Homo sapiens: one gene and its partners. The protein of the gene in region 1 interacts with the protein of each later gene in a pairwise test. Each region holds a gene or a part of one and is shown on either strand. Other genes may lie near its edges.

What was found.
Region 2: the proteins of DTX2 (region 1) and RIMBP3 interact in binary tests that used the Homo sapiens proteins (3 or more experiments, as listed by UniProt).
Region 3: the proteins of DTX2 (region 1) and HDC interact in binary tests that used the Homo sapiens proteins (3 or more experiments, as listed by UniProt).
Region 4: the proteins of DTX2 (region 1) and SEC23A interact in binary tests that used the Homo sapiens proteins (3 or more experiments, as listed by UniProt).
Region 5: the proteins of DTX2 (region 1) and FAM168A interact in binary tests that used the Homo sapiens proteins (3 or more experiments, as listed by UniProt).
Region 6: the proteins of DTX2 (region 1) and MXRA8 interact in binary tests that used the Homo sapiens proteins (3 or more experiments, as listed by UniProt).
Region 7: the proteins of DTX2 (region 1) and NCS1 interact in binary tests that used the Homo sapiens proteins (3 or more experiments, as listed by UniProt).

Annotation. Positions count from the first base shown.
Region 1 is NC_000007.14:76,492,446-76,496,763, reverse strand, and holds part of DTX2 (probable E3 ubiquitin-protein ligase DTX2), read right to left. Parts: intron 1-4,318. UniProt on the Homo sapiens protein: Regulator of Notch signaling, a signaling pathway involved in cell-cell communications that regulates a broad spectrum of cell-fate determinations.
Region 2 is NC_000022.11:18,604,689-18,609,111, reverse strand, and holds the end of RIMBP3 (RIMS-binding protein 3A), read left to right. Parts: coding exon 1-2,597; 3' UTR 2,598-3,297; downstream 3,298-4,423. UniProt on the Homo sapiens protein: Probable component of the manchette, a microtubule-based structure which plays a key role in sperm head morphogenesis during late stages of sperm development.
Region 3 is NC_000015.10:50,252,227-50,256,544, forward strand, and holds part of HDC (histidine decarboxylase), read right to left. Parts: intron 4,106-4,318; exon of another isoform or gene 3,966-4,105; coding exon of another isoform or gene 3,957-3,965; intron 2,439-3,956; coding exon 2,304-2,438; intron 2,048-2,303; coding exon 1,904-2,047; intron 1,441-1,903; coding exon 1,374-1,440; intron 654-1,373; coding exon of another isoform or gene 549-653; coding exon 386-548; intron 295-385; coding exon 204-294; intron 1-203. UniProt on the Homo sapiens protein: Catalyzes the biosynthesis of histamine from histidine.
Region 4 is NC_000014.9:39,092,921-39,097,238, reverse strand, and holds part of SEC23A (protein transport protein Sec23A), read left to right. Parts: intron 1-1,099; 5' UTR 1,100-1,120; coding exon 1,121-1,341; intron 1,342-3,994; coding exon 3,995-4,052; intron 4,053-4,318.
Region 5 is NC_000011.10:73,405,874-73,410,191, reverse strand, and holds part of FAM168A (protein FAM168A), read left to right. Parts: intron 1-530; coding exon 531-705; intron 706-2,548; coding exon 2,549-2,661; 3' UTR 2,662-2,679; intron 2,680-3,447; 3' UTR 3,448-4,318.
Region 6 is NC_000001.11:1,354,938-1,359,689, reverse strand, and holds the start of MXRA8 (matrix remodeling-associated protein 8 isoform 2 precursor), read left to right. Parts: upstream 1-1,134; 5' UTR 1,135-1,185; coding exon 1,186-1,234; intron 1,235-2,985; coding exon 2,986-3,009; intron 3,010-3,937; coding exon 3,938-4,240; intron 4,241-4,344; coding exon 4,345-4,446; intron 4,447-4,537; coding exon 4,538-4,752.
Region 7 is NC_000009.12:130,178,466-130,182,783, reverse strand, and holds part of NCS1 (neuronal calcium sensor 1), read right to left. Parts: intron 1-4,318. UniProt on the Homo sapiens protein: Neuronal calcium sensor, regulator of G protein-coupled receptor phosphorylation in a calcium dependent manner. Directly regulates GRK1 (RHOK), but not GRK2 to GRK5. Can substitute for calmodulin. Stimulates PI4KB kinase activity.

The DNA of each region.
Region 1 (4,318 bases):
GCCCCAGGCTGTGGCTCTGGCGCCCTCGGGCAAGGGTGGGCCTGTGGCCAGCAGCTATGCTGGGACAGACCGGCCACTCTTTCCAGAGCTCACCACTGCCGGATGCCTGCAGGGAACCCCACACTTGCCCTGGGGGACTCTCCTCTGACACTGCTTCCTTCGTGCTCCCTGATGACCCAGCGCTTCCTGGGACACAGCGTGTCCTGCTGGACGAACCCGTTCCTGCCACACCCTCGGCCTACCCCACTTTCCATAGTGCCAGCTCCCCGGTCCTCCCTGTCATCGGTCAGTTAGGTCAAAAGCACCTCCTCTCCAGAGAAAGGGGAAGCCTAGAGCTTCTTAGCCATCTCTTAAGGTGGCTTCCAGGGTCTGCAGAACCTGGCTCAGGAGCTGGGCACAGCCGGCTGCCGGGGGAGTTGGTAGAAATCCCAGTCCTCCTGGACCCCACTCCCCATCCAGGAACAGATGGCGTGACTCAGGGGTGAAGGGCGGCCAGGCCAGCCACTGCGCCCCCACTAGAAGAACAAAGCTTCTCAACCCGGCACATGTGCCTGGCTGTGGGGACAGAAGCGGAGACCAGCCACCAGCCTGGGCAGCAGAGCCGAGGTGGGCAGGGTGAGTTGCAGTGGCCCTCAGCAGGAGACACCAAAGCGTGCATCAGAGGACAGAGGTTTGAGCCCGGGAGCTCAATGCCCCCAACATCCCAAGCTTGTTCCTGGGCTCAAATGCGGTTCCTGTGGGAACTGAATGTCGGGTGGAGAGAAGGACAAGCGGGCGCGGGTGGCAGAGAGATGAGAGAGGACAAGGACAGGTGCAGTTTTCCTCAAGAGAATCTGGTGCCTCTGCGCTGCCCACGTCGTCTGGGAGGACCAAAGGCCAGGACACGTCTCCCTACCCAGGGTTCTCCGGCAACACTGCCTCAGCGGGCAGGCCTTCCCTGAACACTGCCTGACGGGGCCTGTCCCTCCAAGCCTCCCGCCCCACCCTGCTGGACTCCTGCTTTGCACTCCCCTCTGTTTCTATGGACTGTCTTCCCTCAGCACGAGTTCCACGAGGTCCCACCCGTAGCTGCATCTCCAGCACCCCGCTGGGGCAGTGCCTGATCCCTGGGAAGCCTGCAGCCCTCTGTGTTTGCTGAGGAATGAAGACATCCTTGGGCCACCACCAGCCCCCAGGAGGCCGCATGAGTGACACACGTGTCCTTTTCAATGCAGGACCCACTCCCCTGAATTCAAGTCACAAACACACAAGTTTCAACCCAGAAGCCTGGAGAGGAGGAGGGCTAGGGACAGCCCCCCAAACTCCTGACAGCCCCCAAAACACCTGAATAACTCGGAGGGCCACAGCCTTTTTCTCCACCCATCTGGGAGGATTCCCGCTGTCAGAGCCCTGAAGAGTGAAGCCCCCACTCACTGATTCTCACTTCCAATTTGCAGACACCCCTCCTTCTGACACCCAGGGCCAGGGCTGAGATCCAAGCCTCTCCTCTGTGCGCTCTGACCTCCCCAGCCTGGGTTCGAGCCCAGTGCCAGCCCTCACCAGCTGAGCAGTCCTGGGCAGGCTGCTGACACCCATCCCTGCCCCAGGCAGCAGTGTGAGCTGTGGATGGACCGCTGCTGTGACCAGGTGAGGGGTGGAGACCCTGGCTCCAGCCTCACAGTCCCTGCCCCCACCCGATAGAGGGACTGGGCTATGCCACAGCCAGGGGAGCTGTCACCTGGAGGCACTGTCACCTGGAAGCAGTGCCTCCAGCACTCAGTCCTTCCAAAGCATGACCTCCTGGTTATAAACCTCTCTGCAAAAAGCCTGTGCGCAAACGCTCGTCTCCGCAGCCGGGCATGGTATAATTCCTCAACCCACAAGCACACCAGGGTGACAGGACACTGCTCTCCAGCTCTGGCTCCGGGGTGCTGGCCAGGCTCCTCTCATTCCCTGCTCCCCTAGACAATGCTCCCCCAGTAGGTACCAACACTGGGCCTTGAATTGGGGGAGGCAGGAGTCTACACAGCCTCCAGGCTCTCCTATTTCCTTAGGCCTGAACCAGCTTCCCGAATCTATTTCCCCACAAGTAAAATGGATGTTAAAATACCTGCTTTAGCTCCAGGATTGCTCTGAGAGCAACGGGGACAGACAACAGGATGGACAATTTGGGACACAGCCTGGACAGGACCTTCAGCCTCAAGAGCAGAGGAAGGGGGCAGGTGCTAACTCCACACCCAGAGCACTTAGATCTGTGTCATGGCCTCAGAGGTCGCTCACTGTCAGGCCTGGCCACGAAGGCTTGCGAGAGCCCCAGAACTGGAAGGAGCTGGGCCATGAGGAACCGTGTGGGGGCCCCGTCTGTTTACCCACAACCTGTCTCCAATGCCACCACGGCCGCACATGCACACACGGTACACTGTGATTTCCCTACGGCGCCGCACGGTGACTTCAGTGGGCAGGGACTTTCTGGCCAGTGTGTCTTGCTCATTCTGTCTCCCCTGCCCCACTCCAGCTCCTCTCCCTCCTGCCCCCACCTCTCTGGCCGCTCCTTCATTTTCTCTTCAGTCCTGCCCACGGTCTCTGTGGCACACACGCTCCCACGAGGGGTCAGGGGCACCCCATTCCACCCAAGACTGCTCTTCTGAGGCCCACAGCCAAATCCCACTGCCCCGGAACAGCTCCAACGGCCACTCCACAGCCATCACCCCCTCCCAACCTCCCCCTAGACTCAGCAGCACTGAACCGTCATAGGCAAGAAGGCCCGGGGCTGTGTCTCAGCTCTGCCAAGGGCTGGCAGAGAATTTTTAAATTCTCCGAGCCTCAGTTTCCTCTAATGAAAATGGGAACAAAAGCCTCCACCTCAGTGATTTAAGGACGAAATGAATTCACACACGCCAAGCCCCAGGCTGCTCCTCAGTTGTGACTGGCTGCACTCCAGCAGGCCTCAGTCTACCCCCAATCCCCCCTCACAACCCCCCGCCTGACGGCTCATGCCTCTGAATGTTTCAAGCCAAACCTCCCCCTCCACTCCACTGCCTCGAAGCTGGTCAGGCCTTGGCTGGTGCCCCCAGGTCTGAGGTCAGGCTCTGCACCAGCCGCCCTACCTCCAGGCCTGTCCCCTCTCAGCCACTATGACAGCAACTCCCCTAAAACACCAACTCATTATTGAATTCCGCCACATCACCCTGTGAACAACGATGGCGCCATCCACCTCCTTACATACCTCGAACTTTCCAGAAGTTAGAAAATAACCTCAGCTGGGCGTGGCAGCTCATGACTGGAATCCCAGCACTTTGGGAGGCCAAGGCATGAAGACGGCTTGAGCCTGGGAGTTCAAGACCAGCCTGGGCAACATAGTGAGACCCTGTCTCTACAAAAAATAAAAAACTTCCCTGGCATGGTGGCATGTGTCTGTAATCCCAGCTACTCAGGAGGCTGAGGCAGAAGGATCGCTTCAGCCCAGGGGTTGGAGGCTGCAGTGAGCTATGACTACACCACTGCACACCAGCCTGGGGAACAGAGCAAGATCCTGTCTCTTATAACAAGAAAAAAAAAATGGCCAGGCACGGTGGCTCATGCCTGTAATCCCAGCACTTTGGGAGGCCGAGGCGGATGGATCACTTGAGGTCAGGAGTTCAAGACCAGACTGGTCAACATGGCGAAACCCCATCTCTACTAAAAATACAAAAATTGCCCGGGCGTGGTGGCATGCACCTGTAATCCCAGCTACTCGGGAGGCTGAGGCAGGAGAATTGCTTGAACCTGGGAGGCAGAGGTTGCAGTGAGCCGAGATCCCACCACTGCACTCCAGCCTGGGCGAGAGAGACTCCATCTCAAAAAAAGAAAAAAGAAAAAAAATCCTGCCACCTGTGGAGCTTCTGAAAACCCTGCTAGCCAGGCTGCTAAAACAGAATGGGTGTGGGGGCCAGCAGTAGGTATTTTTAAGGATCCTTAAGGTGAAAGGATTGCTTGAGCCCAGGAGTTCAAGACTTCAGTGAGCTGGGTTAGCGCCACTGCACTCCAGCCTGGGTGACAGAGCGAGACTCTTGTCTCACAAAAAACCAAACCAAACCCAAAACAGTTCCAAGATGTAAGATGTATGGTTAGTACAGCAAAAGATCTGGTTGGACCCAAAAGGTGCCTCTTATTCAAGATGTAAGAGTAACTACAGCCGAAATAGATCTATTAATTCCCCAGAGGGCCCCTTTAAGGAAATGTTTAAAGTATTTCAGGACAGGAAAGTGACTATTTAAATATAATGCAATTCAATGCAAAAATGTTAAAGGATGTGAAAAGGTCTGCACCCGAGCGCCCACCGTCATCAGGCCCACGTACC
Region 2 (4,423 bases), on another chromosome or scaffold:
TGTCCAAGAAAACCAGCTCCCAGTCAAACTCCTCCTCTGAGGGGTCGATGTGGGCCACCGTGCCGTCCTCCCCTACTCTGGACAGGGACACAGCCAGTGAGGTGGATGACCTGGAGCCTGACAGCGTGTCCCTGGCCCTGGAAATGGGGGGCTCGGCGGCTCCTGCTGCCCCCAAGCTCAAGATCTTCATGGCTCAGTATAACTACAACCCATTTGAGGGGCCCAATGATCACCCTGAGGGTGAGCTGCCCCTCACAGCTGGGGACTACATATATATCTTCGGGGACATGGATGAGGATGGCTTCTATGAGGGGGAGCTTGAGGATGGCCGGCGGGGGCTGGTGCCCTCCAACTTCGTGGAGCAGATTCCGGACAGCTACATCCCAGGCTGCCTGCCTGCCAAATCCCCTGATCTTGGCCCCAGTCAACTCCCAGCGGGGCAGGATGAAGCTCTGGAGGAAGACAGCTTATTATCTGGGAAAGCCCAGGGAGTGGTGGACAGAGGGCTGTGCCAGATGGTCAGGGTGGGCTCCAAGACAGAAGTAGCAACAGAGATCCTGGATACCAAGACGGAAGCCTGCCAGCTGGGCTTGCTGCAGAGCATGGGGAAGCAGGGCCTCTCCAGACCCCTTCTGGGGACCAAAGGGGTGCTCCGTATGGCTCCCATGCAGCTACACCTGCAGAATGTCACAGCCACATCAGCCAACATCACCTGGGTCTACAGCAGCCACCGCCACCCCCATGTGGTATATCTTGATGACCGAGAGCATGCCCTGACCCCAGCGGGCGTGAGCTGCTACACCTTCCAGGGCCTGTGCCCCGGCACGCACTACCGGGCGCGGGTGGAGGTGCGGCTGCCACGGGACTTGCTGCAGGTGTATTGGGGAACTATGTCCTCCACCGTCACCTTCGACACACTCTTGGCAGGACCTCCCTACCCACCGCTGGATGTGCTGGTGGAGCGCCATGCCTCGCCAGGTGTCCTGGTGGTCAGCTGGCTCCCTGTGACCATTGACTCAGCTGGGTCCTCCAATGGAGTCCAGGTCACCGGTTATGCTGTGTATGCAGATGGGCTTAAGGTTTGTGAGGTCGCCGATGCCACTGCTGGGAGCACCCTATTGGAATTCTCCCAGCTACAGGTGCCCCTCACGTGGCAGAAGGTCTCAGTGAGAACCATGTCACTCTGTGGTGAGTCCCTGGATTCAGTGCCTGCTCAGATCCCCGAGGACTTCTTCATGTGTCACCGATGGCCAGAGACTCCACCCTTTAGCTACACTTGTGGCGACCCATCCACCTACAGAGTCACCTTCCCCGTCTGCCCCCAGAAGCTGTCACTGGCTCCTCCGAGTGCCAAGGCCAGCCCCCACAACCCTGGAAGCTGCGGGGAGCCCCAGGCCAAGTTCCTAGAAGCATTCTTTGAAGAACCCCCAAGGAGGCAATCCCCAGTGTCCAACCTGGGCTCAGAAGGAGAATGTCCGAGTTCAGGGGCTGGCAGCCAAGCCCAGGAGCTTGCAGAGGCCTGGGAGGGCTGTAGAAAGGACCTGCTCTTTCAGAAGAGTCCCCAGAACCACAGGCCACCTTCAGTCAGTGACCAGCCTGGGGAGAAGGAAAATTGCTCCCAGCACATGGGCACCAGCAAAAGCCCTGCTCCAGGATTCATCCATCTACGCACCGAGTGTGGGCCCAGGAAAGAACCGTGTCAGGAAAAGGCTGCCCTTGAGAGGGTACTTCGGCAAAAGCAAGATGCCCAAGGGTTCACACCTCCCCAGCTGGGCGCCAGCCAACAGTATGCATCTGACTTCCATAACGTTTTGAAGGAGGAGCAGGAGGCACTGTGCTTGGATCTGTGGGGCACAGAGAGGCGAGAGGAGAGGAGGGAGCCTGAGCCCCACAGCAGGCAAGGACAAGCTCTGGGGGTGAAGAGAGGGTGCCAGCTCCATGAGCCCAGCTCGGCACTGTGTCCAGCTCCATCCGCCAAAGTCATCAAGATGCCCAGGGGTGGCCCCCAACAGCTGGGGACGGGGGCCAACACTCCAGCCAGGGTCTTTGTGGCCCTCTCTGATTACAACCCCCTGGTGATGTCTGCCAACCTCAAGGCTGCAGAGGAGGAGCTGGTCTTCCAGAAAAGGCAGTTGCTAAGAGTGTGGGGCTCTCAGGACACCCATGATTTCTACCTCAGCGAGTGCAACAGGCAAGTGGGCAATATCCCCGGGCGCCTAGTGGCTGAGATGGAGGTGGGGACAGAGCAGACTGATAGGAGGTGGCGTTCTCCGGCCCAAGGGAACCTGCCTTCTGTGGCCCACCTCGAGGACTTTCAGGGGCTCACCATCCCCCAGGGTTCCTCCCTGGTGCTCCAGGGGAACTCCAAGAGACTCCCACTGTGGACTCCAAAGATCATGATAGCAGCTCTGGACTATGATCCTGGGGATGGGCAAATGGGGGGCCAGGGGAAGGGCAGGCTGGCGCTGAGGGCAGGAGACGTGGTCATGGTTTACGGGCCCATGGATGACCAAGGATTCTATTATGGAGAGTTGGGCGGCCACAGGGGCCTGGTTCCTGCCCACCTGCTGGATCACATGTCCCTCCATGGACACTGAGCAAGCATCCTTGCCCAGGTAGTGGCCTCTGGCTGCTCACACCCTGCCAGAGGAGAAGCAAGCGTTCAGACCCTCACACCAGCACCCCTCCTCACCACCATAAGTAGCATGTGCTCCAAGTGCCACTGTGTTAAACTGATGGTAGTCCTTAAGCGTCCCCTAGGCTCTGAAAGTAGCAGGACTTAAGCCTGAGTTATTTGCAAAAGCAAACACAACAAGCCAACCCCTGAGAGTCTGAGAAGCCATTTCAAAGTTGCTGATAACTATGGCAGGTATACGGAGAAGCGCCTTTTTCTGTGGCCAATGTGTGTTTTCTCTGGGAGGTTAAGGTTATCTGTCCATTGCCTTGTACGAAAGTCTCAAGAAAAGTCTACATCTTAAAAAAGAAAAAGCAATCTGAGTGTTATTTTTGGGATGTGAGGGTGATCTGGCTGCGACATGTGTCACCCCATTGATCATCAGGGTTGATTCGGCTGATCTGGCTGACTAGGCGGGTATCCCCTTCCTCCCTCACCACTCCATGTGCGTCCCTCCAGAAGCTGTGTGCTCAATGGAAGAGGATGACCATCCCCGATAGAGGACGATCGGTCTTCAGTCAAGAGTATAAGAGTAGCTGCGCTCCCCTGCTAGAACCTCCAAACGAGCTCTCAGAATGTTATTTTTCTGTCTTATGTCCAACCCCTCATTAAAATGTTCATAGAAAAAACATATTTTAGAAGTTGAAGCACAACCAAGGAAACATGAGCCTGGCTTTCCTCCCTCTCACTTCTGCGCATTGGGTCCGCAAGGGCTACAGAAATGTTTTCCTGGCTGAGGAAGGGAGGGTGCACCCTTCTGCTTTTTTTTTCCTGGCTGCAGTCTATTCCCAGAACACATTCCATCACATGGTTCCCAGAACTCAGATTGTGCGGTGGCCACGTCATCATTGGCTGGGGCTCACAGTCACAGCAGCAGAGGCCTCCCTAAACCTCCCTCTCCTCTAGCCCCACCCGCTGTCCCCTGCTCCTCATGCCCCCATGCTGTGTCCCCTGGCCTCACTTCCGTTGCCATGTTTTCATAATCCTCTCAGGCTCTGGGCAGCAGCGCTGCCCACAGTAGGACCAGATCATGTAAGGAAAATACTGCAGGCTCATCTTGGGGCTGCACTGGCGACCTGAGAACACCTTATCCTACTGTACCTGCTGCACCTCATCTGACACCAGCTTCTCTGCTTTGCCCAAGGTCCCTAGGCCCTGAATGCTTACTTTTTAAGGTCAGCCTGGCTCAGGATATGCTAGTTTGGCTGCAGAGGGTCCTACTAAGAGCCAGGACTGAGGAGCAAGGCCCAAAAAACTCCTCTGGGCCACATCTTCCCCGAGGGCATCCCCGCAGGGAGGCCGTGTGCTGCTGAGCCCTTTGCTAGGAGTGGGTAGTCAGTGTCTCCCACATGACGATCTTGCTTCATTCAGATAGCTTTCGTAGCTCACTGCTTTTCTGAGTCACTTCCTGTGAGGGATCACCTTGGGATGGAATTTCTTTTCCTTTTTTTTTTTTATTTGGAGACAGAGTCTCGCACTGTCACCCAGGCTGGAGTGCAATGGCACAATCTCGGCTCACCACAACCTCTGTCTCCCGGGTTCACACAATTATCCTGCCTTAGCCTCCCGAGTAGCTGGGATTACAGGTGCACACCACTACACCTGGCTAATTTTTTGTATTTTTAGTAGAGACAGTGTTTCACTATGTTGGCCAGACTAGTCTCAAACTCCTGACCTCGTGATCTGCCCGCCTCAGCCTCCCAAAGTGCTGGGATTACAGGCGTGAGCCACTGCGTCCGGCCTTCTTTT
Region 3 (4,318 bases), on another chromosome or scaffold:
TAGGGTTTTTAACCATTTTCTGGGTTTCATTCTATATACTTAGGCACAATTAGAAACCAAGGTATGCATTGGCAGTATTATGAGATGAGCTCATAGTGTGCTGCCTTCTGAAGGGAGCCACCGTACAGATTTTGGGGGGTCAGACGCCTACAGTTCCCACTGGCCACCCGAGCCCACCAGGCTGCCCGTCCCTGGCCACTCACCATGAAGTCGGTGGCCACGCCTGAGTTGGCATGCCTGAGGTAGATGGGATTCACACTGAAGGTCTGCTGCAGCTTGTACTTGTCCTTGACCCTGTGGGTTTCCAAATGGGCATTAGTGGCTGAGGTCTCTCCAGAGGAGGCAAGGCGTTCCTGCGTGCTCGGAGCTGGGCTGCTACACTCACCAGAACCCAGTACAGTCAAAATGCACCATCATCCACTTGGAAGGATTAAAGGTGAAGGAGTCGGCATACTCAATCCCCTTCAGAAACCCCCGGAACTCGGGGCACAGGAAGGCAGTGCCTGCATAAGCAGCATCGATGTGGAGCCACAGCCCCTCACGGGCACCTGAGGAGGCAAACATCACCTGGCCGGAGGGGAGGTATGAAGTGGGGAAAGATGTCTCGCACCTGGCCAAGCTGAGTGGTGGGCTGCAAGGATGATGTGCTTTGGCTAAATGAGAAACGGAGGGGTGTGGAGATGGGAGCAGGTGGAGTCAGTTTGAAGAAGTGGGGCTGAAGGAGGCATCATTACCTCCGAATGGGAAAGTCTACAAAGCCTCACCCTTGCCTTTTTCTTCCACTGGGTAAAGGGCCAGCACCCTCTTGGCCTCAGCCTAGAACATCCTGGCACAGAAATCAATTTCCCACCAGCACAGAGAGCAATGTCAGTGCACCGAATACAAAAGTTAGAGGGAAGGTATCTCTCTTTCCTAGTGGTTTCTTGCTTGGGGATTAAACAGTCCCATCTGGGTTTCCTCTCTGCCTTTAATCTCTCCCATGATTTCCCCTACCCTACCCTTTTCCTTTTCTGAAGGTAGAATAGAAAGCATTTCTATTCTAGCCTAATTCACACTGTATTTTGGATATAGCCTGCATTAAGTAAAGTTCAACATACAAGTAAGAGGATGAGAAAACCGAAGGCTCTCCTACTGTCGCCTCCTAGGACAGGAGGCAAGGTAGGCCACCTCTAACTCTTGTCACACCACTGGGAAAGGCAATGTCCAGGGATCCCTGGAAGAGACCCTCATGACCTTTGGTGGTTCTTCCCATGTCTCTGCATTGACCAAAGAGGAACAAGAATAATCCCATAGAGCTGGTTTCAGGTCCTTGCTTTAGGAGACATTTAAAAATGTATTCCTTGTCTTCCTAGCCACAGAGGGAAGATACTTACAGATGGGGCCCAGCTCTGACAGGCAGTCAAATGCACAGACCCCAGTGGTCCCTAGTGTTGCACAGACCTAGGGGAAAATTAAGGCAAGTTAACACAGGAGGGTGGGCTCGTGTGACACATTTGGCCTGAGAAAGATTTCACCACAGACGTGATCTACTCCCATCCATCCCACCAGAACAGTGTATATTTCAGACTGTGTTTTACCATGGCTCGTAAGAAACACATTTTATATAACAATCTAGTACATGTATACGTGTGTATTTGAAAAAAAAGTTTCATAAAACAATACATACTCTGGCTATATGTGTGCACTCTAATATTTTATACTATATTTCTTTTTAATGCTGGTTATGACCCACAAAATTTATTCCATAACACACCTATGGATAGCACCTCATGATGTGTAAAATACTGTATGGGAGGACCTTTCTGCTTTTGTGTGCAGCATGTTACTTACCTGAATTCTGCCAAAATTCCTTCCTCACATCCAAGTTCTATCATTCTAAGCTTAGGCATATATCCTGACTTACAAAGACGGGCACCAAGCCCCGCTGCTTGTCTTCCTCGATGGCCTTCTGAAGAGCTTCCCCTCGGAGTGAGAAGTTGTCATCCACAGGCAGAAATTTCATCTTCACAAGGGAAATCAAACCAGCCTTTTCCACAGAGGAGTGAGCCTAGAAGGGCCACAGAAACCTGTCAGCAAAGAGTCATCCTGGAATGATCACCCCCCAGAAACTGCTGAAGCCTAAGACTCGGGAACCAAATATGATCATTGGAAGCTTGTCTTCCCTACAGTTGCTGGAGACAAGCTCCCATGTCTGAGCTGCTCAGAACCCCAGCGTACTCACGTCTAGAAAAAAATTGCTCAAGGACCAAGATTCCAGAAGCCAAGCACCAACCCGAAGGGCTGTCCTGCGTCGGGCAACTCACCTGGTCAGAGGCATAGGCCACGAGTCGGGCATTTAGGCAGGACTCATCAGCATCGGGCTCAGACGTTTTCATTTCCAGGATTTTGTTCTTCCTTGCTGCCAGCAGGGCAATCAAAGTGGATTCACTGACCGTGCTCTGCAGGGGAAAAGGATTATCATGGCAGCCTTTCTGTATTCTCTTGCCAAATTTCCCCAGGCTTTCTAGTTTTTTCTCTCTCTCTCTCTCTCTCTCTCTCTCTCTCTCTCTCTGTGTGTGTATGTGTTTGTGTATGTGTGTGTCATAGCTATTCACAGAAGGAAATACACAGCTCCTCCTGCCCAGGGTGCCCATGTCCCTCCCCAACTTTCATTCCTATTCTGCCTTCTAAAATAAGTTTGCACCTAATACCAGCCTCTCTATTACAGAGGCCACAGAAACCAAAAAGAGAATGTTCTGTCCCTCCTGGATGTGTTTGCTCCCCATGTAAAACATATTTAAAAGAAGAACTCTCAGCTTATTACACAAATGGATATGGAGTTTGAGTCCCCAGGAAGAGAGGATCCTGGCCTGTGTGAGAGGCTGGTGACTTGGGCCCATTTAGTTGTCAATAGCTCTTGTGACCTTGGGCTAACATTTCCCCTCCAGAAGACTCTTTTCTGTCTATGAAATGGAGAGCATCCCTTTAACTGCTTCCCAGGATGGGAGTATAGATTATCCAAACAAGGGTTGGGTAGGATTTTGCTCTGGCCATGATTGTGGAAATCTTCGGGGCCACCTCAGGAACTTCACAGGAGTCTTTATGGTTCCTTATCATTCATTCACCCAGTCTTTGATGTCTTTGCTTCTTGAAATCTTCAAGTGACCTACAGCTGATAGAATCCTGCTAAAAATGCCTGGCAGACACTGTCATGGAGAGTGGTGTGGACCAGATCCCACAGATATTAAGTGCCTGGGAGTTACTCCATAAAAAGAAAGCTATTTATGTAAAGAAGTATGTAGCATAATAATAATAATAATCAGCTGGGTGCAGTGGCTCGCACCTGTAATCCCAGCACTTTGGGAGGATCCCTTGAGTCCAGGAGTTTGAGACCAGCCTGGACAACATAGTGAGACCCTGTCTCTACAAAAAAAACAAAAAACAAAAAGCCAGGTGTAGTGGTGCACACCTGTAGTCCCAGCTACGTGGGAGGCTGAGGTTGGAGGATTGCTTGGGCCCAGGAGATGGAGGCTGCAGTGAGCCATGATGGCTCCACTGCACTCCAGCCTGGGAGACAGAACCAGGCCCTGTTTTTAAAAATAATAATAATGGTAACAACACCTTCCATCTGTATTGCAATTCATAGTTTACAAAACACTTTCTGGCATTCTACTTGCTCCTCACAACACCTCTTTGAGATAATTATGATTCTTGTCACACTAAGATGAGGAGAGTGATGCTCAGAGAGGTGATGGGACTAACTCAAGTTCACATGGCTGACGATACAGGAGAAAGCATGGTTTGGATTTAGACAGGCATCAGTTTGAATCCTCGTTCTTCCGCTTATCAGCTGTGTAAGCTAGGGCAAATTATTTAATCTCTCTGAACTTCAGTGCTCTTATCTCAAAACATTGGGGAATGGTACTATTCACCTGCAGGGTTCCTGAGATAATCAGATGAAAAGCAAGATCATGTACCGCAGACATTTAGCATGTTCTCCCAAATATGATATCTGAAGTTGTAACTATTTGCTGACAATCCAAAATGTCCACAACATGCTGCAATTTGTCTTTCTTCCGAGGTTCAGATTTTAATCTTGCTGCAAGGCTGCAGTGAGAGAGGGAGTCACTTAGCTAGCAAGAGGACCTAGTGAACTTCCTGGTTCTCATCTCAGAGCAACATGGCAATTTTTTTATTTTTTGAGACAAGGTCTTACACTGTCGCCCAGGCTGGAGGGCAGTGGCACAATCATAGCCCACTGCAGCCTCAATCTTCTGGGCTCAAGCAATCCTCCTACCTCAGCATCCCAAGTAGCTGGGTCTACAGGCACATGCCACCA
Region 4 (4,318 bases), on another chromosome or scaffold:
AAAGCCGGCATCCTACCTAGGCATTTAGACAGTAAAAATGGAGCTGTCTTTTGATACTGGTCCCTCCCCAGAGTGCATCCTCTTCCCTTGGTTAGTAAACTTAAATTATTATACTGAAATTTTATATCTCAAATTGGAGTTTAAAATGCTCTCATAATTTGGAATGTTCAAAATATTCTGAAGTAAGTTTCTGCAAAAGAGTCTAAATGATATATAAATTGGGGGAACAGCACTTATCAAGCATTTTATTTATTGTGCCACAAATAGCCTGTACTTGCACAATAAGAAAATTACCTGTCCAAAGCAGAAGTGTCCAGTTTTAGGAAAATCTTTTTGTTACATACCATTAAACATTCTCTTCTGTAAAGTTTAGTGGAAACTTGTTATTTTTCAGATAGAAACCATGTGAGTTTTAGAACTTTATAATTTTGAAATCTGTTTATATGAATTCTTATAATTTTCAAAACTGATATGGAAAACATAGGATCTAGGTTTTCCCCCTATTTTTGCATTTCTTTCCTATATATCCTTAAAGAAATAAGACACTATTTTTTGCCATCATCTTTTAGAGTGAATAAAAAAGTGTTAAATACCTCTTATTGGGCCTTGTGAACATTGGGTAGAGCCATTAATTATTTTGTTATGAGTTGCTTGCTAATTTTTTTCTGAGATAAATATTTTCATTTGGTCCTGATTTTTTTTTTTTTTGAGATGGAGTTTTGCTCTTGTTGCCCAGGCTGGAGTGCAACGGAATGATCTCGGCTCACCACAAACTTTGCCTCCAGGGTTCAAGAGATTCTCCTGCCTCAGCCTCCTGAGTAGCTGGGATTACAGGCATACGCCACCATGCCTGGCTAATTTTGTATTTTTAGTAGAGACGGGGTTTCTTCGTGTTGGTCAGGCTGGTCTCGAACTCCCGACCTCAGGTGATCCGCCTGTCTCGGCCTCCCAAAGTGCTGGGATTACCGGCGTGAGCCACGGGGCCCAGCTGGTCCTGATTTCTAAGGTGTTAATATTGCTGAATGAGGGGAGAACATTCATATTTTGAACGTTCTTAAGAGGATCCTGGATTTTAAAATATTTTAAAATTTTGATACAGAAATAAGAATCAAACTCCACAATGACAACCTATTTGGAATTCATTCAACAAAATGAAGAACGAGATGGAGTCCGATTTAGTTGGAATGTTTGGCCATCAAGTCGACTGGAAGCTACAAGAATGGTTGTTCCTGTGGCAGCCCTGTTTACACCACTGAAAGAGAGACCTGACTTACCACCTATTCAATATGAACCTGTTCTGTGTAGTAGGACCACTTGCCGTGCAGTTTTGAATCCTTTATGGTAAGTAAAATATATAGAAAAACTAATGTGGCAATGTGATTTTAAAATGTCGGGGTTTTTCTGCATATTTTTATAAAAATCCCTTTGTTTTTGTTCATACTAATTTTTTCAAATTAGGACAGTCAAAACAATCCAGAGAGCTGTAAAATTTTAGGATCATTCTAGTTGTACTGAGTTGGTAATATAAAGAGACCAAATGTAAAAGTGGCACTATAAAAACTGTTAGATTCCATCAGTGTCTTCTGAATAGTGGTGCTGGATGTGTATCAACCCATCTTGCATCATTAGATAAGTCATAATTGGCCGGGCGTGGTGGCTCATGCCTGTAATCCCAGCACTTTGGGAGGCCGAGGTGGTGGATCACCTGAAGTCAGGAGTTCGAGACCAGCCTGACGAACATGGTGGAACCCCGTCTCTACTAAAAATACAAAACTTAGCTGGGGTGTGGTGGCATGTGCCTGTAGTCCCAGCTACTCGGGAGGCTGAGACAGGAGAATTGCTTGAACCTGAGAGATGGAGGTTGCAGTGAGCTGAGATCGTGCCTCTGTACTCCAACTCTGGGTGACAGAGCGAGACTCCGCCTCAAAAAAAAAAAAAAAGTTGTGATTGAGTGACATGATGTTCCAAAAATGTTGTGATTTCTGTTGCTGAAGCCAAAATCTCAGGAATCATCTCTTACTTCTCTTTCCATTCCCTCTCCCCCCAGCCAATCCACTAGCAAATCTGGGTGATCTACCTCTAGAACATTATAGATTCTGTCTCTTACAGCCTCTTATTCCATCTCTGGTAGTATACCCTGCTTCAAGATACCACAGTCTTTTTCCTGGGCAATTTCAATATCCTCCTACCTGCTCTCCCTGTTTCTATTCTTGTCTTTCAGCAGTCTGTTCTCTACCCAGAAGCTAGAGTTTTATGAATGAAAATCAGATGATGAACATCTTCCAGTAGTAGCTTCTTATTCTTGGAATGAGAAATACAAACTCCTTATCAAGATCTATAAAGCCTTGTATGATCTAGCCTCTGTATATATTTCTGCCTTCATCTTGTGTTATCCATTTTCCTTATTCTCATCTACATAATACCTTAACCCTGTTACCCTCTTTCTGATTCTTGAACATACCAAACTTACTCCTACCTTGACAATGGTATAGTAGCTGTGCATTCTGCCCGGATTCTTCTGTCTCCATATTTTCGTATGATTGCTTCCTTTTCATTCTGATCATACTTTAGTTGTCTATTTAAGAAGGCTGTTTTTTAAAGCAGCCCTCTTAAACACATTCTCACATTCTGCTTTGTTTTCTTTAATCTCTGTTATTACAATGTAAAAGTATTTTTGGCTGGGTGCAGTAGCTCACGCCTGTAATCCCAGTGCTTTGGGAGGCCAAGGTGGGAGGATTGCCTGGGCAGCAAAGCAAGACTCCATTTCTACAGGAGGGGAAAAAAAAAAAAAAAAAATATATATATATATATATATATATATATATATATATATATATATATGTGTGTGTGTGTGTGTGTGTGTGTATATATATATGTATATGTGTATATATGCATATATATGTGTATATGTGTATATATGCATATATATGTATATGTGTATATATGCATATATATGTGTATATGTGTATATATGCATATATATGTATATGTGTATATATGCATATATATATATGTATGTGTATATATGCATATATATATATGTATATGTATATGCTGGGTGTGGTGGTATGTGTCTGTAGTCCTAGCTACTTGGGAGGCTGAAGATGGGAGAAACACTTGAGCCAGGAGTTCAATGCTGCAGGGAGCTATGATTCTACCATTGCACTGCAGCATGGGCAATAGAACGAGACCCTGTCTCAAAAAAAACACCAAAAGTATTTTCTTGTTTGTGCATCTGCTTGTCTTTTGTCTGTTTTTTCTAGAATGTAAACTCCATGAGAGCAGTTCTCTTTTTCTTGTATCACCAGCGCCTAAAATAGTGGTTGGTACTTATTAGGCATTCAGTAAATATATTTTTGACCTGAATAAATGTTTTCTAGGTCTGAGTGTAGATGTTACTGAAGTCACTTGAAGAAAAAAATAGGATTATTTTAATTTTATTGATATTTGCTGTATATATGTGTGCATATATATATTTTTGAGATGGTTTCACTCTGTCACTTAGATTGGAGGGCAGTGTTGTGATTGTGGCTCACTGTATCTTTGACCACCTGGGCTCAGATGATCCTCTCACCTAAGCCTCCTAAGTAACTGGGAGTGCAGGCATGTGCCACCACGCCTGGATGATTCTTTGTATTTTTTGTGAAGACTGGGTTTCACCATATTGCCCAAGCTGGTCTTGAACTCCTGGACTCAAGCCATCTGCCGCCTCAGGCCTCCCAAAGTGCTGAGATTACAGGCGTGACCTACTGCACCCAGCCAATATTTACTATATGTTAAAAGTTATATTCACCATTTAGGTAAACTTGTATATGTTAAAAGTGTGAATTAGATATTGGCAGTATCTAAAACTACATGGCTTTTAAAAGTTACTTTGACTATCAATTTGAATATGTTCATGTTTTAGGAAGAAATTAATTTTATTGAAATTAGGATTTTTGTAAAATTGAACTGAAATATGAACTGATATGTCTTTTCTTTTTTTTTAAAACAGTCAAGTGGATTATCGAGCAAAACTTTGGGCTTGCAACTTTTGTTACCAAAGGAATCAGGTAAGAAAACATCCATTGCATGCCGGGCGCAGTGGCTCATGCCTGTAATCCCAGCACTTTGGGAGGCCGAGGCGGGTGGATCACGAGGTCAGGAGATTGAGACCATCCTGGCTAACACAGTGAAACCCCGTCTCTACTAAAAATACAAAAAAAAAATTAGCTGGGCGTGGTGGCAGGCGCCTGTAGTCCCAGCTACTCGTGAGGCTGAGGCAGGAGAATGGCATGAACCCGGGAGGTGGAGCTTGCAGTGAGCCGAGATTGCACCA
Region 5 (4,318 bases), on another chromosome or scaffold:
TCAAGTGATCTGCCTGCCTTGGCCTCCAAAGTGCTGGAACTACAGACGTGAGCCACTGTGTCCAGCCGCCATTTTTTTTCAACATGTACTTTTTTTTTTTACAACATGCACTTACACCATTATGATACTACTACTAATTATCCTTTTGTGTATGTGTTCTGGAGTTTACCAGCCCTGTTCACATGCTTGGTAACTGATTGATTGTTATTCCTAACTTTAAATTTTAGGCAGCTTATAAAAGTTCATTGCAGTAAGATAAAACATTTTAAAATGCTAAAACCAAGGTTAAGGGAGTAGAGCTCTTATCCCATTAGATCATCATAGCAGCCTTATGAGCAAGGCAGGACAGGATTAGAGCCTTATTTTTCAGACCAGAAGCTGAGCCCAGCACTGCACTGACCACAGTCACATAGTAAGACAAGCAGAGCCCCAGCTGGGGTCCGGACCTTGTGTCCTTCAGCCAGTGCTGCTCTCTCCATATCCCACCTACCTCTCCAAATGCCTATGTGACCTCAGCCTCTTTCCCCCAGGGAGCCTACTACACACAGCCGGTGTATGCTGCCCAGCCTCATGTCATCCACCATACCACGGTCGTCCAGCCCAACAGCATTCCCTCTGCTATCTACCCAGCACCTGTTGCCGCCCCGAGGACCAACGGTGTGGCCATGGGCATGGTGGCAGGCACCACCATGGCAATGTCAGCAGGTGAGGGCAGCATCTGCATCAGTGTCCATCCCTTTCCTCTAGGAACTCAAAACGGAGCAGAGAACACAGTCATAGAATTGGCTGCAGCACAGCACAAGAGATCCTGTGCCAGGGGGCTTGGGAACCCAGAGGAAGGAGCCTCTAAATCTGTCTATGGGGATGAGGAAGATTTCACCAAGAAGGACGTATCGAGCTAGGCCTTAAAGGGTGAACACAGGCTAACTAGAGAAGTGAAAGAGGGAAGGGTGGTGCAGAAAGAACATGAACATGGCATGTTCACAGAATGGAGGAATGGAGCCAAGGCCCTTCGGAAATAGGGGCTTGGAGTTGGAAGGTGGCTGGATCGCTAGCAAGGATAAGATGGTGGAAAGTCCTGAATACCTTGTGGTACCTCTGTTGCACACAATGGGGGTCAAGCAGGGCAGGGATGTGGTTAGGTTTAAACATTCTCTGGCTGCAGAGTGGAGACAGGATTAGAAGGGGTGATCTGGAAGCAAGTAGGTCAGTGAGGAGGCTGTCAGTGTACTTTAGGGGAGAGAGATGATGCTAGCACTCCAGTAACAGCAGGGGCGCCAAAAAAGAAGACACAGGGGCAATGTTCTTTATTAGGCAGGAGCTTAAGGACCTGTGCAATAATTATAATAATTATGAGGGATGACAAAAGCAGAAGTCCCCAAGGACTGTTAGGTTTTTTTTTTTTTTTTTTGAGACAGGGTCTTGCTTTGTCACCCAGGCTGGAGTGCAGTGGCACGATCTTGGCCTACTGCAGTCTTGATCTGCTTGGGCTCAAGTGATCTTCCCACCTCAGCCTCCCAAGTAGCTGGGACCACAGGCATGCGCCACTACACCCAGCTAATTTTTGTGTTTTTTTGTGGAGGCAGGGTTTCACCATGTTGCACAGGCTGGTCTTGAACTCTTGGGCTCAAGGGATCCACCCACCTCAGACTCCCAAATACTGGGGTAACAGATATAAGCCATTATGCCTAGCCTAGAGACCCAACTTTTAAAGAACCAGCTAGGATACCATCTGAGGTAAGAAAGTACAAGGGGTAGAGTGAGCATTTGGATTTTATTCTGTCCCTAACGTAAGGGTATGGTTGAGGCCTCTTACTCCTCAGATCAAGTTGGCAAACTGTTGGATATCTACTCAGTGCCAGCCTTGTTCAGGTCCTGGGAACCCAATATCAATAGATCAGATCAGAACACTGTCCTTAAGGAACACCCAGGTTAGTGTGGGAAACACAGCCACAGACATCACAATTACTACTCAGTATGATTGTGCAATAAGAGAAGCATACAAAGAAAAGTAAAAGGAAGGCCGGGCGTGGTGCCTCATGCCTGTAATCCCAGCATTTTGGGAGGCCGAGGTGGGCGGATCACTTGAGGTCAGGAGTTCGAGACCAGCCTGGCCAACATGGTGAAACCCCATCTCTAGTAAAAATAAAAAATCAGCCGAGTGTGGTGATGGGCACCTGTAATCCCAGCTGCCCAGGAGGCTGACGCGGGAGAATCGCTTGAACTCAGGAGGCAGAGGCTGCAGTGAGCTGAGATCGCGCCATTGCACTCCAGCCTGGGCGACAGAGCGAGACTCCGTCTCAAAGAAAAAAGGAAAAGGAGGACTTAGAATAGTCATTGATTCTGTCCTCAAGCATCAGAAAAAATTCCCCTAAGGAGGTGAAGCCTGGTGAGGTGGAGAAGGGCAGAAAACAGGTCATCAGGAAGGCGAGGGAGATGGGGGATTTGGGCAGAGGGAGCAGCCATGTGAAAGACTGTAGCTTCATCCTCTTCATTCCTGTGTCTGGTGCAGCCTCGTCAGGTTACTCTTCTCTCTCTGGATGCTCAGGTACCCTGCTGACTACACCCCAGCACACGGCGATTGGGGCACACCCTGTCTCCATGCCAACATATAGGGCCCAAGGAACCCCTGCGTACAGCTACGTGCCCCCACACTGGTAAAGCCTGCAGCCCATCCAAGTGAGTGTGGCCAGGGTGAGAGAAGTGGGAGGGGGATACATACAGGAACTGCCTCAAAGTCCCTGGTTTGGGTCTGGAGCACAGGTGTCAGCTAGGGCAGGTAACAGCTGTCAAGTTACCAGTTGCTTTCCTGCTCCAAGGTCCATAATATCACTCTTAATAATAGCTATCACTTCTGTTGACTGCTTGTTGAAATCTAAATAATAACAGAAATAATAATAGCTATCCCTTTGCTTATGTTATCTCATAATCCTTATAGTTGCTCTGTGAAATAAGGATCATTAGCTCTATTTTACAGATAAATATGTAGTTAAATATCACTTAGCCAGTAAAAATTAAGCTAGGGCTTAAACTTCAGTTCTCTAGTACTAAATTCTGTGCCATTTACCTTATGGTCTTCGGACTTCTTTTAACTATGGGCCCCATTCTTCAAATGAACTCTTGCCCAGATCATATGTTAAGAGCTTTGGTTGGAGCTATTTGGAGGCTTTGGGCTGACCCAGACCTCTGGCTTCCTTGGTCCCCTCAGCAGCTCCTGAGGCAGTGACAGTGAACCATAGGGCTCCAGGGATGTCACTTTGAAATCCTCTGGCCCCCCACATCATCTGGCCTCCCCCATCTCCTCCAGGGCTCTTGGCACCAGAGCACAACAACTTCCACAGGCGGGAGGCAGGCAGCTTCACTAGGAAGGCACAGCGGGCTCCCGAGTTGAGGGGAGAAGCCTCCTGAATATCACTGACACTGTTTCTTTCCCCTTTCCCTCTGCAGATCTGGAGTCACACATTGTATGCAACTACTCAAGTCTTACACCGGTGCTGGAGCAGTTCCCTAGCAGCACCACCTCTATTTGCAAGAAGAGACAACGGAAGTGCAAGGGTCACTTTATGCATCTTTAATGGTTTTGATTTTTATTTTTGGTTTTTGTAAAAGCTGCTTTTTCTAATCTCCTGCCTCTCCCCAACTGTCCCCCTCTTAGCCCCTGCCCTTCCAGCTCTATCCCCTTCCTCCTACCTGACCAGGCCATGTCCTCTCTGCTCTTCCCTAAGTGTCCTGTCCCTGGGGATCCCAGTCTAGAGGCAAGCAGAGAGTAGGGTTTATTGCAGTGGTTCATCTGAAGGCTGGATTCCATTTGAAGAGCATAAACAGATGTGGTCCAGGGTAGGAACTCAGAGCTGTTGAGCAGGCTACATCTCTAGGGGAGTGTTCTGGTTGTTTTTTCTTAAGCAAGATTAGTTCAGGACATTCCCATGTCCCAGACACAAATGAAATGTCTCCTGAGAACCATTGCAACAGACCAAGAACAAAACCACCTGAGTATGTAGGCGTGTTATTAGCAGCTTAATACCCCAGGCTGAGAACCTGGGGAAAAAAGTCTTTAGAATTTGGGGGAGGGTGGGGGGAGGGAGGGCATTGTGGGGAAGGAGAGGGAAGAAGGGAGGAGCGGTGCTTGCCTCATGGCTTTGGTTTGAAAGGTCTCTGGCCAAAGCATCTGGCCCTGGACCTTCTGATTTGCACAGTGATGTTAACTGACCTGGCACTTCCTCAAAAGGTGATTTTGTCCTTAGACCTGCCAAGCGGCTGCAGGGTGGTAGGATCCCAGCATCCCGAGGCCTTGGAAGGCCGGATGCCCTGTGTCATC
Region 6 (4,752 bases), on another chromosome or scaffold:
TCCTGCCCGTTCCTCTCACTGGAGCAGCCGCAGGTTCCCCTCCCCTCGCCCTGAGACCACCACTCTGATCTGCACTGGGCTTCCCACTGTCTGAGGACTTGGGCACCAGAGCAGGGTTCAGGGGTGAGCCCCCCACCCAGCTGGGGCCCTCGGGGCCTGTAAGGAGAGCTCACTCCAAGTGGGCGGGCGGAACTATGCACTGAGGGTTTCTAGTGGTTGTGGTTGTTCAGATTGTTTTTTCTTGAGGTTTGCTTGATTAGAAGGAGTTGGGTTTGCTACACAGTGCAGGCTGTTATTTCGCATTTGTTTATGTGACTTTGTAAGTTTTCCCACAGTTTCAAATTTGTGCCTTCCATGGCAGGGGTCCCACTCTCCCCTTTCTCCAGGAGGCTTGTAATCCAGCACCTGGTTTCAGGGACACCAGGCTGCACCCTAAAGGCGGGCAGCCCCAGGGGACGGGGCCAGCAGGGAGAGGTCTGCTCACCCCAGCACCCCCAGGCCTCCCAGTGCTCAGGGTCCCCTGTCCCTGGCTGACTCTCCAGGTTGTAAAGGGGACTAGTGACTGGCAGCGTCCATCATCCTGGCCCAAGGGAGCCCACCGTGGCCCCCAGAGGAGACGGGTACCAAGGTCATGCAGGGCCAAGGGTTGGAGCTGGAAGGGCCATCTGGTCTGAAGGAGAGCACCAGCGTGCACCGTGGGTGGGGGCGGTCTCAGCGCTGGGAGGCCTTTCTGGGGCCTGGAGCAGACTGAGGGGAGGACCCTGCCCTGAGGTGGCTCACGTGGGGGGAGGCCAGAGGTGGGGCGGAGGGGCCACTCACCCAACAGTCCCAACCCTTCACCACAGGCCCGGGAGGCTCCTAGACGTGAGACACGATCACGTGGTATCAGGGGCCCATGTCCTCGGACCTTCTTGTCCCTCCAAGGGTGCGGTCACCACCCCTCCCCAGGCCTGACCGGTGAGGGGCTGGGCCTCTGCTCCCACACTGCCCCTCCCCAGCAGGCCAGCAACGATGGGGGAGGCCAAGGGGCCCGGCAGGAGCCAGAGGGGGCGGTCCCCAGACCGTAGACAGGCCCAGGCCTCCGTGATGTCACCGCGGGTGCTAAGGAGGGGGAGGGGGTAGGGCTGTTTTTCTGGAGAGAGACTTAGAGCCGAGTGGGACAAAGCCTGGGGCTGGGCGGGGGCCATGGCGCTGCCATCCCGAATCCTGCTTTGGAAACTTGTGCTTCTGCAGAGTGAGTGTGGGGCCCTGGGAGGCGGGTGGGGGGTGGCACGTGGGGCTGTGCGAGTCCGTTTCGGACAAAACCGCCCATCTGAGCTTGGGCCAGGAGGAGTGGGAAGGTCCCACCAGGGAAGAGGACGGGTCTGGGGGCGCTCGGGAGAGCCGCTTGCCAGAGGCTGTGACGTCTTCAGTTAGACTTTGGCCAGCCTCCCCTCCTAGGGAGTTGAAGCCCAGAGGGCCAAGAAGGGCTGGGGGCCCAGGCACGGCGGCGTCTCCCTCGGGGCCCCTCCTGCAGCCCCTCTTGCTGGGGCTCTGTTTAGGGAGTGGGTCAGTGATTGAAGGGGACCTGAGAACTGTGGGGTCTGTTCCAGCCCCCGCTCCCAGGCCTGGGCTGGCTGCTGACCGGGCACATTCCTCTGGGAAGCTCCCAGGCTCTCGGCCACATCTCTGGGGCAGTTTTCACATAGGATCTATGTGAGGGAGAGCAGCCCCCAGTGATCTAGAGACACAGGATAGAAACAGCTTTTATCACCCACGGGCCCTGGGGTGCACAGACTGCTGGGAGGCCAGGGAAAGTGGAGAGAGACAGGGACCCCCAGGCCAACCCTTTATTGGGATCAGGGCGTTCTGCATACAGGTTTCCCTCAGGGAATTTTTTTGGAGGCAGTTTCTCTCTCGCCAAGGAGGCTGCAGTGCAGTGGCGTGATCTCGGCTCACTGCAACCTCCACCTCCCGGGTTCAAGTCATTTTCTTGCCTCGGCCTCCCAAGTAGCTGGGACTATAGGCGCCCACTACCACCCCGTCCGGCTAATTTTTTGTATTTTTAGTACAGATGGGGTTTTTCATATTGGCCAGGCTGGTCTTGAATTCCTGACCTCAGGTGATCCACCTGCCTTGGCCTCCCAAAGTGCTGGGATTACAGGCGTGAGCCACCATGCCTGGTGGGGGAGTTTTAACTGGTGGGTTTAAGGCAAGCGGCACGAGCCCCGTGGGGCCACGCTGACTGTGGGGGGACTCCGTGGTGCAGCTGCACAGTCCATGTGGGGCGTGGGGTCTGTGGGGACACAGGGGGTGGTCACCAGGGGACAGTGCGTAGGGCGGGCGTCTGGGTGGATCAGCTCGAGGACGGGGGATGTGAATTGGAAACTGTCCCGGGTGGCAGCCCCGCTTCCGGTCAGAGAAAGTCCAGCCTAGATTCAGAGTGGATGCCGAGGCGGCCTACGACAATGAGAGTCCCTCAAGCAGCAACGCGGGCCTGTGGGGCGGCAGCCGGGGTCACGACCCACATTCAGCCTTCAGGCCTCTGCCCTGCGGAAGCACCTCAGGGGCTGCGCTGAGCCTTAGGTGTGGTGTGGGGTCCCCAGCGTCTGAGGGTCCAAGGACCCTCGGGGGCTGGGGCACAGCCCTGGAGGGAGCGTGGGGGAACCCACAGATCCAGCCTCCTTGGTGCTCTGGGTGACTTGGGTGCAGCCAGGTGGAGTGGCCCCGGTGACAAGCACACACCCCAGAACCGGCTGGCTTGGAGCCTGGCCCTGGCCCACGCCCATGCCCTGGCTTCCCCACTCAAGGGCAGGTGCCATCCAAAGCCCAGCACGGTGGCAGGGAGGGCTATGTAGGTCTGTGTGAGAGGCGTCCTCCCTGCACTGAAGTGGGTGTCACAGCATCCACTTTGGGACTACAGGAGGGACTCTGGGGGCCAAGTGGGGGGTCTCGGGGCTGGGTGGGGCTGTGGGTGGCCTCTCCAGCTCACTCCTCTCCTTCCAGGCTCTGCTGTTCTCCTGCACTCAGGTTAGTGACCCCAGCCCCAGCTGCCCACCCCCACTCCCCCTCAGCCCCTCCTATCTTGCCAGGCCCAGCCCCCGGGGGTCCTCAGGCCCTGCCCCTCCCCCACTGATTCCCCCTTGCTCATCAGGACCCTTGGGCACCTCCCCTTGCCAATAACTCCCCCTCCCCCAATGACTCCTCTTCCCCTACCAGGGCCCTTGGGGGCCTGGCCCTCCCCCACAGACTCCCGCACACCCACCAGGGCCCTCGGGGGCCCACCCCTCCCCCACAGATGCCCCCACTGACTCCCCTTCCCCAACCAGGGCCTTCGGGGTCTGCCCCTCCCCTACTGAGTCCCCTTCCCCACCAGGGCCCTCGGGGCCCACCACTCCCCCATGGACTCCCCATCCCCCACTAGGGTCCTTGGGCCCCATGTCTCCCCGACTGACTTGCCCTCCCCCATGGACTCCCCCTCCCCTGCCAGGGCCCTCGGGGGTCCACCACTCCCCCAATGATTCCCCTTCCCCCACATGGGCCCTAGGGGGCATGCCCCTCCCCCATGGAATCTCCCCCACCACGAGGGGCCTCAGGGGCCCACACCCCCCCAAAGATGCCCCCAACCCCGCCAGAGTCCTTGGGGCACACCCCTCCCCCAGTTACTCCTCCTCCTCCACCAGGGTCCTCAGAGCCCGCCCCTCCCCCACTGATTCACCCTCCCCCATCAGGACCATCAGGGTCCGCCCCTCCCCCAGTGACTCCCCCTCCCCTATCCAGGCCCTCGGGGGTCTGCCCCACCCCACGGACTTCCCCTCCACCACCAGGGCCCTCTGGTCCTGCCCGTCCCTTACAGACATCCCTCCCCCACCAGGGCCCTGCCCCTCCCCCACTGACTCCCCCAACCAGGGCCCTAGGGGGCCCACCCCTTCCCCCACCGACTCCCCTCCCCCACCAGGGTCCTCGGTACCCGCCGCTGCTGGCAGCTCCGTGGTGTCCGAGTCCGCGGTGAGCTGGGAGGCGGGCGCCCGGGCGGTGCTGCGCTGCCAGAGCCCGCGCATGGTGTGGACCCAGGACCGGCTGCACGACCGCCAGCGCGTGCTCCACTGGGACCTGCGCGGCCCCGGGGGTGGCCCCGCGCGGCGCCTGCTGGACTTGTACTCGGCGGGCGAGCAGCGCGTGTACGAGGCGCGGGACCGCGGCCGCCTGGAGCTCTCGGCCTCGGCCTTCGACGACGGCAACTTCTCGCTGCTCATCCGCGGTGCGGGGACCGGGGACCGGGGCCGCGGGGTCGGGGCAGGGGTCCGGGGCCGCGGGGTCGGGGGCACCGCAAGGCTCACGCGCGGCTTCCTCCTGGGTGCGCAGCGGTGGAGGAGACGGACGCGGGGCTGTACACCTGCAACCTGCACCATCACTACTGCCACCTCTACGAGAGCCTGGCCGTCCGCCTGGAGGTCACCGACGGCCGTGAGTGCTTCCCCCCCGCCCCCCAGCTCCCGCCCCTCGACCCTCGACCGCCGCCCCGGCCCGCGCGCCGCTGACCGCGCCCCCTCCGCAGCCCCGGCCACCCCCGCCTACTGGGACGGCGAGAAGGAGGTGCTGGCGGTGGCGCGCGGCGCACCCGCGCTTCTGACCTGCGTGAACCGCGGGCACGTGTGGACCGACCGGCACGTGGAGGAGGCTCAACAGGTGGTGCACTGGGACCGGCAGCCGCCCGGGGTCCCGCACGACCGCGCGGACCGCCTGCTGGACCTCTACGCGTCGGGCGAGCGC
Region 7 (4,318 bases), on another chromosome or scaffold:
GCTTCCCAGGAGCAGGGGTGGTGCCAGCACCGTAAGATGGCGGTACGTTGCTCCTAAGTTCCCAGGGCGGGAGGATGACCATTGAGATCAGCCCAGCGCCCACACACGGTCAGCACCTGCTGAGCCTCCACTGGGGTGGGTGGAGGCTGAGGAAGCCGTTGAGGCCAGGGCACAGCTGCGCCACACACTCCTATCAGCGCCTCTCCTCCTGCCGCCTTTCCACAAGGCCTCAACTCTGCCTCCTTCCTGGAGGAAGGCAAGGCGGAGGCTGCCCCAAATCTCCTGCAGGAGGCAGAACCTCTGGAACCAGCGGGAAGGATCCTATCTGCCACCAACCTCACACCCAGCCCAGGAGTCCGGGATGCCTGGCCAGTGTCTGATGCTCCAGCAGCGGCTTGGATGCTCCCAGGGACTGGGCGCTCCCTCCCCTTGGCAGGGAACTCCAAGGTTTTGAGGCTCACAGAGACGGTGGGAGGCAGGCGCCGGGTGGGAAGGGCGTGGCTCTGGCAACATAAAGATCTAAGCCTGAACCCCGACTGGCCATCGATTGGCTGGCTGGGGGGACTTGGGCGTGTCCCTGAACTTGCCTGGGCCTCCCTTTCCTCATCTGTAAAATGGGTATAAGGGTCCCTACTCCCAGGGCTTTGGGGAGAGGGCAGCACTCAGCACTCCTGGTCCCGAGTGCCCACTGGGTAAACGGTGGTCGTCATTGCTGTCATCTCCCCCCAACCACAATACTCCCCTACTGCCTTGGGGAGTGGCAGCTTATCACCTGGTTCCAGACCTGGCAGCTGAGCTCCCAGCCTTTGGCGCGGCTCCCGGCCTGTCTGTGCCTCCCTCCCCAGCGTCCCCCACCCCCAGGCACACCTACATTTACAACCTGTACAGAGCTGCCCTCACACACCACCACACGCGTGCGCACAGGAGTGCCCGGCTCACCCACTCCTGACACACGCCATGACCCCGTCACTCACGCTCGGAGCGTGCCCACGTGAATCGGGACTTGCCCACGTGCCCCGCAGCACCCGCCCTGCCTGCAACACCCACACCAGGCACCCGGGCCCGCTCACGCTCACCTGCACACCTCCATGGCGGCTCCCTGGCACCTCCACCAAGCAGGGGCCCCTCACCGCGGCCCAGGGCTTCAGTGTGCAGACTCCAGGCTGAGAGGGGACGGGGATCAGACCCCAATGGCACCACTCTCCAGCCGTGGGACCATGAGCCAGCTCTCATCCACTCTGAGCCTCCATTTCCTCATCTGTAAAAAGGGGACCCCCACAGGGCTCCTGGGTGGAATTGGTGAGGAACACACGTGAACACCAAGGACAGGCCTGGGTCACACGGAACATGCCTAATACCAGATTCTCACCGCAGTGACAGCCCCTGACCGTCCCGTGCTGCAGCTCGCAGATCCTCCACCACCACCAGGAGCAAAAGGAGGGCCGAGATGAGCCGCCAAGTTCAACGTCTGTTATTCCTAACCCCGCACACGGCTCTGTGTAGTAGAAGTCCCTTATCCCCAACCCCCAGATAAGAAAACTAAGGTATCGAGAGGCTAAGAACCATGCCTGAGGCTGAGAAGATCCAAGGGCCTGGGTCTTGAACACCACAGCCCAAGCACACTCCGTCCCTGGGGCCCTGACGTACCTTCCCCACTGGGTCTCACTATCTGGGAATTTGAACATGGTACAGAAAGGGAAACTGAGTCCCAGAGGGAACTAGTGACTCCAAAGCCACTGTCCAGGCCATGATGGTCCTGGGACTTAATCCCAGGCAGGCTGCTGTCCATCCTCTGAGCCCCTGGGCGCACAGGAGCCTAAAAGCCAGCCTGCCACAACCCTTCTCCCTCCCCAACTCACCAAGCCAGGAGCCAGACACAGAACAATCCGGCCACCAACCCAGCCGGGCCACCACAGAGGCCCTCCATGTTTGCCACTCGCTCCCAATTCAGCCAAGAGCCTGTGACAGCTCACTCTGTGATTGCCCAGGGGAGTGGCCAAGAACGGCTGTCCCTGATACAGCCGGTCCAGCAGCCTCCTTCCTGGGAGAGCATTTACTGAGCACCTACTACGTGCAGATCCCTGTGCAAACATCCCTGTCTCATGCGCAAGGGACCTCAGAGCTCAGAGACGTAAGGAGCTGGCCAGGATTGCCCAGCCAGGAAACAGCAGAACTGACCTTCAAGTCCTCAGCACCTGCCGTTCTGCCCTTGGTCAGAATATGACCCCAATCTCAAGTTACCTAGAAACGCCGCAACGTAATCTCTGACACTCTCTGCCCTGCAAAATAGATCACACACAGAATGTGAAAATTGATTCATCTTGTTATGACCATAATGATGATGTGCTTTTTAATTTATATTGGCTTTTTTTCTTACCAGAGTGCTAGAGATATCTGGGGCAAGATGAACCCCAGCAGAAGACCTCAGTGAAGAAGTCAAGACATCCCTAGGCCAGGCGTGGTGGCTCACGCCTGTAATCCCAGCACTTTGGGAGGCCAAGGTGGGTGCACCACTTGAGGCTAGGAGTTTGAGACCAACCTGGCCAAAATGGCAAGACCCCATCTCCACTAAAAATACAAAAATTAGCCAGGTGTGGTGGTGCACATTCTAATACGAGCTACTCAGGAGGCTGAGGCAGGAGAACAGCTTGAACCCGGGAGGTGGCGATTATAGTGAGCCGAGATCGCGCCACTGCACTCTAGCCTGGGTGACGGAAGTGAGATTCCATCTCGATAGATAGATAGATAGATAGATAGATAGATAGATAGATAGATAGATAGATAGATAAAAAGAAGGCAAGACATCCCTATCTGAACCCCAACAGCCAACTCACCTTGGCACAGTGGGAGGTGCCCTGACAGGAACAAAGCAGTTCCTGCCACATATTTGCTGTGTGACCTTGGGGAAGATGCTTCACCTTTCTGGCGCTTAATTTGCCTACTTGTAAAATGAGGGCATTGAACTACTTGGCCCCAAGAGTCTCCTCCAGCTGAAAGATACTAGGATTCTATTTCATAGTATTCAAAGAAATAAATGTTGACACAGTGAGCCACCTCTTTTCCTCCCCATAAAATTGGCAAGAAGTAAGGAAAACAGTAATACCCAGTGCTGGCAAGAATGCAGAGAAATAGGCACTCTCTCATCTACTTTTGCTGAAAATGTAAACTGGAACAGCCTTTCTGGAGAGCAATTCAACAATTTTTAATCAAAAGCCTTTCAAAACATCCCCAGCCTTTTAACTCCATAACCCCGTTCTGGGTTCTTATCTTCAAGAAAAGATAAGTGCAAAGATTTAGTGCAAAGACATTCATGCAAAGATGTGGTACAAAGATGTTCATCTCAGTATTTTCAATATGGGAGGAGGAAGCTAACTGTCCAATGACAGGAGATTAAATAAAATATGTTCTGTCCATATGATGCACCATGAAAAAAAATCATGCTCTAAAAGCATAGTTCATGATACGGGCAAACATTCAGAATGGTCAGGTTTTTTTAAGTCAGAAAATAAAAAGTAGATAATCCCAAATTTACAAGGTAATGAAAACTATGAGTCCAGGGACAGCGGCTCATGCCTGTAATCCCAGCACTTTGGGAGGCCAAGGTGAGTGAATCACCTGAGGTCAGGAGTTCGAGACCAGCCTGACCAATATGGTGAAACCCCGTCTCTACTAAAAATACAAAAATTAGCTGGGAGTGGTGGCGGATGCCTGTAATCCCCTACTCGGGAGGCTGAGACAGGAGATTTGCTTGAACCCGGGAGGTGGAGATTGCAGTAAGCCAAGATCGTGCCACCGTACTCCAGCCTGGGTGACAGAGTAAGACTCTGTTTCAAAAAAAAAAAGAGGAGGGAAGGGGAGGGAAGGGGAGGGAAGGGGAGGGGAGGGCAGGGGAGGGGAAAGAAGGGAGGGGAGGGGAGGGGAGGGGAGGGGAGGGGAGGGGAGGGGAGGGAAACCAAGTCCTACTGAGTCTTCCTCCTAAATATATCTGGAATCTGTCTTTCATGTCATCCCCACCGATACTCCAGTTCATCACCATGATCACCTTCGGTCTCATTACCACCCCTCTTCCCCGCCAGTCCATTCCGGGACTGCAGCCAACAACAATTTTTCTAAACCCAAATCTAATGTGTCTCCATCACCTCCCTTCCACGGCTCCCTACGGATCTCGAATAATGTCCAAATTCCTTCCTGTGGCCTCTCAGAGGGTGACATGGGCCCGGCCCACTCGACAGGACACCACCCCCCTCCACTGCCCATGCCTTGCCCCAAAGGGGTTTAAGACAGGCCTTGGGAGCAGCAGGAGCTGGGTCCGATCCCA